Regions from separate parts of the Homo sapiens genome. Here region 2 is linked to region 1. The links come from fine-mapping of genetic effects on gene expression. A gene starts in region 1. The other region holds a variant in brackets. All regions are shown on one strand. Distances are from middle to middle. Region 1 holds the start of LINC00239 (long intergenic non-protein coding RNA 239). Region 2 overlaps LINC02320 (long intergenic non-protein coding RNA 2320).

Region 1 (5,378 bases):
TTTGGCTTCCCCCATTTCAGCAGCGCTCCACCACCACCACCAATTGTTGATTTGTCCTCCCTATTGGAGCCAACCCATCATCTCCCATTATAATAATTCATTCATTAAAAAAATTAAAACTTGATCTCTGATATGGTTTGGCTGTGTCCCCAACCACATCTCATCTTGAATTGTGGTTACCATAATTCCCACTTGTCATGGGAGGGACCCGGTGGGAGGTAATTGAATCATGGGGGTGGTTACCCCCATGCTACTGTTCTCATGATAGTGAGTGAGTTCCCACGAGATCTGATGGTTCAATAAGGGGCTTTCCCCCTTTTTGCTCGGTACTTCTCCTTGCTGCTGCCATATGAAGATATGAAGAAGGACATATTTGCTTCCCCTTCTGCCATGACTGTAAGTTTCCTGAGGCCTCCCCAGCCATGCTGAACTGTCAGTCAATTAAACCTCTTTCCTTTGTAAATTACCCAGTCTCGGGTATGTCTTTATTGGCAACGTGAGAACGGACTAATAAAATCTCTCTCTCCCTTTCTGCTCTCCTTTATAGCAAGACTCTTTGGAAGTATCCATCTGGGCCAGAGTGCAGTGGCATACTCACAGCTCACTGCAGCCTCGATCTCCTGAGCCCAAGCAATTCTCGCACCTCAGCCTCTTAGTAGCTGGGACTACAGGTGTGCACCACCACTCCCCGCTAATTTGTAAAAATTTTTTGTAGGCCGGGCGCAATGTCTCATCCCTGTAATTGCAGCACTTTGGGAGGCCGAGGTGGGCGGATCACCTGAGGTCAGGAGTTGGAGACCAGCCTGGCCAACATGGTGAAACCTTGTCTCTAGTAAAATACAAAAAATTAGCCAGGTGTGTTGGCGGGCACCTGTAATCCCAGCTACTCAGGAGGCTGAATGAAGAGAATTGCTTGAACCTGGGAGGTGGAGGTTGCAGTGAGCTGAGGTTGCACCACTGCACTCCACCCTGGGCTACAGAGCGAGACTCTGTCAAAAAAAAAAAAAATTAAAAAAAAAATTTGTAGAGACAGAGTCTTGCTATGTTTCCCAGGTTGCTCTGGAACTCTTGGCCTCAAGCAATCCCTACCTCAACTTCCCAAAGTGCTGAGCTTATAGGTGTGAGCCCCTGCACCCAGCTGGAAGTATCTATTCTTATTATCTTCAATTTTTCTCCTCCCATTTTCTCTTGAACCTTTTCAATCAGTATTTGCCTCCTACCACCACATTGAAGCCCTCCAGTGGCTTCCCTATTTCATTTGGGATAAAATCCAAAGTCTTGGCCAGGTGCGGTGGCTCATGCCTGTAATCCCAACACTTTGGGAGGCCAAGGTGGGCAGATCACTTAAGCTCAGGAGTTCAAGACCAGCCTGGGCAACATGGTGAAACCCCATCTCTACAAAAAGTACAAAAATTAGCCATGTGTAGGGGCGCATGGCTGTAATCCCAACTACTTGAGGTGCTGAGGCAGGAGGATTGCGTGAACTTGGGAGGTCGAGGCTGTAGTGAGCCAAGATCATGCCACTGCACTCCAGCATGGGTGACAGAGCGAGACCTTGTCTCAAAAAAGAAAAATAAAGCCAGAGTCTTCGCAGTGCCCACAAGACCCTACGTGACCTGATCTCCCATGACTCATTGCTCCTCGACAGCCACCACTCCGTTCCATGGAGTAGCCCAGGCCAACTGCTCTGCAGCCAAACTCAGGGAAACTTGGAGAACATGTGTGGACCAGAGGACCCCTTCCTCCTGGCTACCAAAAGAACCCCCAAATCCTGCAGCCCACCAGCTGTGTGCCCAGACACAATCTGGAGTAGAGGAGTAGACAGTGGCAGCCATCAGAAGCCCCACTGGCCAAACACTTCAGCCTCAGAATGCTGAGCTGCTCAAAGAACTGGTTAAATGTTTGTATTAGACCAAGGTTACTAGAATGGATGTTTCTCCCCATTGTATTACCCAGCAGAGAGTACCTTTCAAGAAAGATCAGATTAATTAAGTAGGAAAATGAAGACACTCTATTTTCTTTGCACATCTGATGTATTGTGAGTGATTTTGTGACCCTGCTACGTGCACGCATATGCACAGAAAAAAAATATCTTAGAATGTAGACCAAAATATTAACAGTGGTTATGGATGAGTGATGGATGAGTGAACTAACTATAGATTTGGAAGGATATTGTCTGTTTTAAAAGAAAATGAACACTTTCACTCCCAAACAAGACGGAATGTAGAGACTGGATTTCCTCTCCTGCCTGAAAAAGTCAAAATAAATTGGACCAAATATATAAAACAAGAGTTCTCAAGACACTGGATGATATGGTTTTGCTATGTCCCCACCCAAATCTCATCTTGAATTGTAGCTCCCATAATTCCCATGTGTTGTGGGAGGGACCTGGTGGGAGATATTTGAATCATGGGGGTGGTTTCCCCCATACTGTTCTCGTGGTAGTGAACAAGTCTCACGAGATCTGATGGTTTTATAAGGGGTTTCCCTCTCCACTTGGTTCCATTCTCTCTTGTCCACCACCATATAAGATGTGCCTTTCACCTTCTGCCATGATTGTAAGGCTTCCCCAGGCCCGTGGAACTGTGAGTCCATTAAACCTATTAAACCTGTTTTTCCTTATAATTTACCCAGTCTCGGGTATGTCTTTATCAGCAGCATGAGGACAGACTAATACACTGGATATCAGGTAACTAGGCACAATGATTTCTGAGAATGTGGAAAATAAAGTGAGCCTGCAATTAACCCAGCTTCCTTTCTTGAGAGGGTTTCCAAGCTACAGTATGGACAAGGGTACCCAGGTGGGGCCTGGCAGGCTCTTCGAGTTGGGAAGACAGAGCTGAGAGTCCAGGGAGACTCTGGTCACAGGTAGGGGCAGGGGGGTGATGCTGAGAGCCCCTGGGGCATGCCTGCCCTCTACAAAGCTCGTGGTTGAATGCAGGGAGGTGGTCTGGGGGTGGACTTGGGCAATGGGGAGGCTGCATGGGTTAGAGCCAAGCTCTCCCCTCTTCCAGTCTGTCTGGGCCTCTGCAGCTCCCGGTAACTTTGCACTGATTCCAGAGACAGTGATTGCTCAGGTACCCAGGTCTGGGTGTAATTAAAAAAAAAACAAAACAACAACAACAACAACAACAACAACAAAAAACCAAACCTGGCTCTTGGTGCTTTCAGAGATGGCTCAGAGCAGGAATTCTCTAGCTTTGGGGTGCATCCTCAGAGGTGGGGGGGGGCTTGCTGAAAAGACAGGTGTATGGTCCCACCTCAGGCCTGCTGAACAGAAGCTCTGGAGCAGGCTCAGGAGTTTCTTTTCTAACAGGCTCCCCGAGAGATCCTAGCAAATGTTTGCACAACACTCACTTGGAAGCTATGTGACCAAAACCATGATCACAGGGTTGTCCCTGAACACGGTGGGGAAATAACCTCTCCCTTAAATCTCCCCTGCGTGGTGACTTAGGGGAGGAGCCGGAAGAGAGCAGTGCTTCACAATAAAAGGAAGAATTGCTTGAACGGAGGCGTTTCAGGCATGAGTCACAGGCCGGGTGTGGAAGAGGAAAGTGTGAAGCAAGGTAGGCTTCCCAGCACCCCTCCATGCACAGCAGGGGCTGGCCAGCCTCAGCCAGGCCAGATGGAGCCCTGGAGGGTGGGGCTGGCTGCCCAGCTAGAGTGTCTCCTTTTACTTCCAGCAGGAAAAAAAGGCCTCCTGTCAATAGCAGAATCATCTACGTTTTCCCTGCCTTCCTCACTTAAATGCTTTCGAGGAGTGGGAGGAAGAAATTGGAGGCTGGAATGAATACCCTTTGCCCTCCTCTGAAAGCAGCCTGGGAGGGGTGACGGGGTGTAGGAGCAGAGACTTCAAGTGGCCCCCACCTGCCAAACCATTCTCAGGGACAGGTACCAGCTGGGATGTTGGCAGCAGCCGCTCCCCTGCAAGGAGAACCTCCCACTTCCTGTCCCGCACACCTGCCTCATTGGAAAGTGACGCACCCACTGTTTGGCCTCGGCAGCCTGATGTTTCTCATCACACAGGAAGACGGTCATGCTACAGGAAGACCTCGGACTTTGCATCCAGCAGATGTGAGTTCAAATTCCAGCTTTGTAATTTGCAAGCTCAGAGGTGGATTTGCTGGGAAGCTAAACAAGCTTACCTGCAGAGCCCCCAGCTTGCATGGGCCCCTCCCAAGACCTTAACCTCATTTTGTATTCATAATTTTGTAGTCTTTTCCCTTCAAAAGGCAGCCCAAATTTAAAAGCATTAAGCCCCACAAGACCTGAGTCCACCTAGGAGGTGGGAGATATCCCTTGCAGCATGAGAATAATAATTACCACCTCGTAGGGTTGTTCTAGAGATTGTCAGACCGAGACCACGCCACACACCCAGAAGGCACCCAAGTCACAGAGCCTGATATTGTTCCTGGAGCGCCATTGCATCATCCTTGACCACAAGATCTGCGTCATTGGATTTGTCTCAAAAACTTGGGACTCTGGAGATAAAACCTCATTGCAAGGCTACCTTTGCCACTGTATCTTAGCAGCTTTTGAAGCAAAGCATTTCAATATTTAGACACTGTGTTTCTAATGGGTACTGGGATCAAAATAATAAAAACTCAGTCTGCAAAGGGAGAAGAATAGAAACCAGCAGATTTATTATTTCACAGAATGTTCCTCTCCTCTCAGGTAAACATGCCTAATAATATCTGCTTAACTAATGAGCACCCGCATTGTCAGTGGGGCCTTGACTCTGACGACGTAATGCATTTCTGTGCCATTGCACCCCCCACCCATCTCGGAGAGCATCTGAAAATTAAGTGGGGCAGATGTAATTATGCATCTAATATGCAAGGTACATGTGCATGTAGAAGTGTGCATTGTGTAAACAACTGTATCAAATCAACTGCATGTATCTGCTTGGCTCACGTCCTACAAGCACAATTTTCATTTTATTCCAGTTACTTCTTTTTTTTTTTTTTTTTTACAGAGTCTCACTGTGTTGCCCGGGCTGGAGTGCAGCAGCGCCATATTGGCTCACTGCAACCTCCGCCTCTCAGGTTCAAGCAATTCTCATGCCTCAGCCTCCCAAGTAGCTGGAATTACAGGCATGCGCCACCACACCCAGCTAATTTTTGTACTTTTAGTAGAGGTGGGGTTTCACCATGCGTTGGCTGGTCTCAAACTCCTCACTTCAGGTGATCTGCCCACCTTGGCCTCCCAAAGTCCTGGGATTACAGGCATCAGCCACCATGCCCGGCCTTCCAGTTACTTCTTGCTGGCTAATAAATCACCCCAGAACCAAGTGGCTTAAGACAGCCATGAGTGTTTTGTAACAAGCATTGGATGACTATTTCCCCCAGCCCTGGGGACTAACTAGGCTCAGCTTATCT
Region 2 (5,378 bases), 43 kb before region 1:
GTGACACAGCCTCAGGAGGTCCTGATGACATATGCCCAAGGTGGTCGGGGCACAGCTTGGTTTTACATATTTTAGGGAGACATGAGACATAAATCAATATATGTAGGATGTACATTGGTTCCATTCAGAAAGTCAGGACAACTCGAAGCAGGGAGGGGGCTTCCAGGTCACAGTTAGATGAGAGACAAACAGTTGCATTCTTTTTTTTTTTTTTTTTTTTAATTGAGACAGAGTCTCACTCTGTCGCCCAGGCTGGGGTGCAGTGGCGCAATCGCGGCTCACTGCAAGCTCCGCCCGCCGGGTTCACGCCACTCTCCTGCCTCAGCCTCTCCGAGTAGCTGGGACTACAGGCGCCCGCCACCACGCCCGGCTAATTTTTTGTATTTTTAGTAGAGACAGGGTTTCACCATGGTCTCTATCTCCTGACCTTGTGATCCGCCCGCCTCCGCCTCCCAAAGTGCTGGAATTACAAGCCTGAGCCACCGCGCCCAGCCGACGGTTGCATTCTTTTGAGTTTCTGATGAGCCTCTCCAAAGGAGGCAATCAGATATGCATTTATCTCAGTGAGCAGAGGGATGACTTCGAATAGAATGGGAGGCAGGTTTACCCTAAGCAGTTCCCAGCTTGACTTTTCCCTTTAGCTTAGTGATTTGGGGGCCCAAGATTTATTTTCCTTTTACAGAGTGAAGATATAATCTACAGAATGGGAGAATATATTTGCAAACCATACGTGTGGTAAGGGATTAAGATCCAAAATATATAAGAAACTCAACTCAATAGTAAGAAAACAACCTGATATGAAAATGGACAAAGGGCCTCAATAGACATTTCACAAAAGAAGACATACAAATGGCCAACAGGTGTATGAAAAAATGCTCAACATCACTAAACATCAGGAAAATGCAAATTAAAACCACAGTGAGATATCCCCTCACACCTGTTAGAATGGCTCTTATCGAAAATACAAAAGATAAATGTTGGCAAGGATGTGGAGAAAAGAGAAATCTTGTACACTGTTGTACAAGGTACAATATACAAGAATGTACATTTGGTACAACCATTATGGAAAACAGCATGGAAGTTCCTCAAAAAATTAAAAATAGAATTTCCATATGATCCAGCAATCCCAACATTGAGTATAAATCCAAAGGATATGAAATCAGTATGTCAAAGAGATATCTGCACTCCCATGTTCTACAGTATTACAAGAATCAAGTTAGGAATCAACCTAAGTGTCCATTGATAGATGAACAAATAAAATACAGTATGTGTACACAATGAAATATTATTCAGCTTTAAAAAGAATAAAATCCTGTCATTTGCAACAATGTGGATAAACTGAGAGGACATCACATTAAGTAAAATAAGCCAGGCACAGAAAGAAAAATACGTAATCTCACTTGTATATAGAGTGTAAAAAAGTCAAACTTATAGAAGCAGAGAGTAAAATAGCGGTTCCCAGATGCTGGAGGTTGGGGGATTGGGAAGATATTGGTCGCAGGACACAAAATTTCAGTGAAATAAGAGGAATAAGTTCAAGAGATCTATTGTACATCATGGTGACTACAGTTGATAACAATGTGTTATATACTTGCAAATCCCTAAGACAGTTGATTTTAAGTGTTCTCACCACACACAAAAAAAATGATAAGTATGTGGCATGATGCATATGTTCAATAATTTGATTTAGCCATTCCATAGTGTGTCACAACATCAGGTTGTACACCACAAATATATACAATTTCTACTTGTCAATTAAAAAATAAATAAAATATATTGACACAGGAAATATGTACTTAAGTTCCTTAAAAGTCTTTTTTTTTTCTTTTTTTGGAGATGGAGTCTCACTGTGTCACCCAGGCTGGAGTGCAGTGGCGCAATCTCGGCTCACTGCAACCTCTGCTTCCCATGTTCAAGCAATTCTCCTGCCTCAGCCTGCCAAGTAGCTGGGACTACAGGCACATGTCGCCACACCCGGCTAATTTTTTTGTATTTT[A/T]AGTAGAAACGGCGTTTCACTGTGTTGCCCAGGCTGGTCTCGAACTCCTGAGCTTAGGCAATCCACCCGCCTCAGCCTCCCAAAGTGCTAGGATTACAGGCATGAGCCACCGCATCCAACCTAAAAGTTTTAATTTATGCTACATTATTCAAAATAATAATATTTTCAAAACAAAAGAAAAAAATGTGTGCAAAATGTTTAAAGGAATAAAGGCCACTGTTACAACTAACAGAGATCACTGGGAAAATATCAATAAAAGGACCCATGAAAAGACTACAAGCAACAATTCCTCAGGTCCAGTGAGCACCATAAGCATCTGATCTTAAAGACCGAATCCTTCCAGCCAGTAGCTCTTTAGAGAAGTGGCTGATTCGAGGTGCAGGACAGGGGGTGCCCAACATAGGTCAGGGCATCTGTGCTAAAATCAAGGAAGAAGCCAAAGACTGGTTCTTGCCAAAAAGACATGGAAGCTGGCCGGGCATGGTGGCTCATGCCTGTAATCCCAGCACTTTGGGAGGCCGAGGCGGGTGGATCACCTGAGGTCAGGAGTTCAAGACCAGCCTGGTCAACATGGTGAAACCTCATCTCTACTAAAAATACAAAAATTAGCCGGGTGTGGTAGCATGCACCTGTAATCCCAGCTACTAGAGGGGCTAAGAGGCAGGAGAATCGCTGGAACCCAGGAGGTGGAGGTTGCAGTGAGCCAAGATCGCACCATTGCACTCCAGCCTGGTTAAAAGAGTGAGACTCTGTCTCAAAAAAAAAGACACAGAAGCCAGCTTGACACCACATTTGATGACAATTTGCATAAAGCAAAGTTCATCCGTAGTGGCATTCATAAAAAGAGAAAGAAAAAAACGGTGAGGAGCTTTTTGTGAAAGAATGCCAGTTAATTCACCTAGAAGTCACGGATTTAGAAAATCACAATTTTGCAACCACCAGTATAACAACTGATTCAGGTGAAGGTCATTAGTGAATAACAGCACCAGGTAAAATATGGTTGGATGGAGCAGAATCATCACTGCCCCACCTACTTGCCTCAGACTCTCCACTCACTATGCCCCAGGTGACTTCCCATTGCCATTTCAGCATCTCCACCCTGAGGGCATTTTGCCCACACATAGGGGAAGCGGAAGTGCCGGGCTATTAACAACCCTCTGAAACAGCTTGCGCCAATGACTGATGAAAGTTGGTGCATAAATATTTCGGCTCCCTTGGCCCTCCTCCAAGTGAGATAACTCTAAGGTGTGTGTGTTACACAACTTCCCAGCATCTCCCAACAGTGTTAAGCTCTGGTTTCCCTGTGGTGGCTGGCTTAATGACACAACTTTGATTGGCTGTATCCCCTTCCAGGTATCACTTCTTCACCCAAATAAACATCCTGCTCTCAAATTTTCATCTCAGGATCAACTTTGGGAAGGATGCAATCTACAACCTTGGTGTCAGTGACAGAGCAGAAGCACTGCCATCTTGGACAAACGCCACCATTTTAAATTCCAGCTCCCTTTCTAACCTCATGCATTTCAAGGAAATCACTTCTTTTCTAACAACAAGCAGCCAGAAAGAGCAGACGGTAAAACACAGATAAGACAGCTCAGGCAGGGAGAGAGAGGGGAAAGTCTCTTGGGTAACCACCAAGCTTCACACCCATACAATGGGACCCAGCAAAACAGTGGGTCCAAATAAGCACATTCCTTTCTTTTCAGGTGCACTAAGATAGGGAAGCTAAAAGTAAACTCGGGGGTATGCCTGCAGGTGCAGGAAGATGTATGGGAACAGACACAAAACTCTCCCTCCCAGATAAGCAAGACAAAGAGACACAGGACATTTCAAGCCTGTGATAAGCTCTCCCACCCTGAACCCTTAAATACTCTTAGTCTGTAAGAGAGACTGCTCCCAACCTAACTCGGCCAGAAGGCCCTCTCAGGTTTACTCTCTGAAATAAACCTGTCTTTGACTACTCAGCCACTTTTCATGTTTCTTTCTTCTTCAATTCTTACAGCCAGGAGTAGGAGGCAGATCCTCTAGTGGGACCCTGGAATGAGACCACTAGCCACAGGGCCGCTGGTGTTGAGAGGTGACAACGTGCTAGCAGCCGTCGCTTGCTCTAGGTGCCTCCTGGGCCTCGGCATCCACTCTGGCCATGCTCCAGGAGCTCTTCAGCCCGCCACTGCACTGTGGGGGCCCCTCTCTGGGCTGGCCGAGGCCGGAGCCGGCTCCCTCTGCTTGCCAGGAGGTGTGGAGGGAGAGGCACAGGCGGGAACCAGGGCTGCGCGCCGAGCTCGCGGGCCAGCACGAGTTCCAGGTGGGCGGGGCTCAGCAGGCCCCGCACTGGGAGTGGCCAGCCCACACCACCTGCCTGGGCAGTGAGGGGCTTAGCACCTGGGCCAGCAGCTGCGGAGGGTGCACCAGGTCCCCCAGCACTGCCAGCCTGCCCATGCTGTGCTCCAATTCACACCGGGCCTCAGCCGCCTCCCCACGGGGCAGGGCTCAGGACCTGCAGCCGGCCATGCCCAAGCCCCACCCCTCACCCCTGTGGGCTCCCCAGCGGCCCGAGCCACCTCAACGGTGCCACCTCCTGCTCCGGGGTGCCCGCCTGGTCCCATCGACTGCCCAAGGGATAAGGAGTGTGGGCCACAGTGCGGGACTGGCGGGCATCTCCGCCCACAGCTCTGGCGCAGGATCCACTAGGTGAAGCCAGCTGGGCTCCTGAGTGGGGTGGGGACTTGGAGAACTTTTATGTCTGGATGGAGGATTGTAAATGCACCAATCAGCACTCTGTGTCTAGCTCAGGGTTTGTGGATACGCCAATCAGCACTCTGTATCTAGCTAATCTGGTGGGGACTTGGAGAACTTTTATGTCTAGCTGGAGGATTGTAAATGCACCAATCAGCACCCTGTGTCTAGCTCAAGGTTTATAAACACACCAATCAGTGCTCTGTGTCTAGTTAATCTAGTGTGGACTTGGAGAACTTTTAGGTCTAGCTAGAGGATTGTAAATACACCAATCAGCACTCTGTCTAGCTCAGGGATTGTAAATGCACTGATTAGCAACCTGTCAAAACGGACCAATCAGCGCTCTATAAAGAGGACCAGTCAGTGCTCTATAAAACGGACCAATCAGCTCTCTGTAAAATGGACCAATCAGCAGGATGTGGGTGGGGTCAGATAAGGGAATAAAAGCAGGCTGCCCAAGACAGCAGCGCAACCTGTTCGGGTCCCATTCCACAGCGTGGAGGATTTGTTCTTTCACTCTTTGCAATACATCTTGCTGCTCGTTCTTCGGGTCCACAATGCCTTTAGGAGCTGTAACACTCACGTGAAGGTCTGCAGCTTCACTCCTGAGGCCAGCAAGACCACGAACCCACCAGGAGGAATGGAC

What was found. PIP is the estimated chance that this variant, and not a neighbour inherited with it, causes the effect.
Region 2: its variant is the best candidate, but not a certain one, in a credible set for the expression of LINC00239 in whole blood (INTERVAL, PIP 0.72).

Annotation. Positions count from the first base shown.
Region 1 is chr14:101,727,903-101,733,280 of GRCh38, forward strand. It overlaps LINC00239 (long intergenic non-protein coding RNA 239), which reads left to right and starts at 2,535. Exons shown (of 4, transcript NR_026774.1): 1 at 2,535-2,585; 2 at 3,455-3,566; 3 at 3,886-4,074; 4 at 4,334-4,623. LINC02320 (long intergenic non-protein coding RNA 2320) reads right to left here and starts at 3,404. Exons shown (of 6, transcript NR_184269.1): 1 at 3,152-3,404. RefSeq lists enhancers at 2,970-4,169, 3,212-3,271, 4,002-4,101.
Region 2 is chr14:101,684,841-101,690,218 of GRCh38, forward strand. All of the region lies in intron 1 of LINC02320 (long intergenic non-protein coding RNA 2320), which reads right to left. Among named protein-coding and RNA genes, the nearest start is that of LINC00239, 43 kb to the right of the region's middle. RefSeq lists a silencer at 4,495-4,658. The variant A/T (reference allele first, on the strand shown) is at 1,997.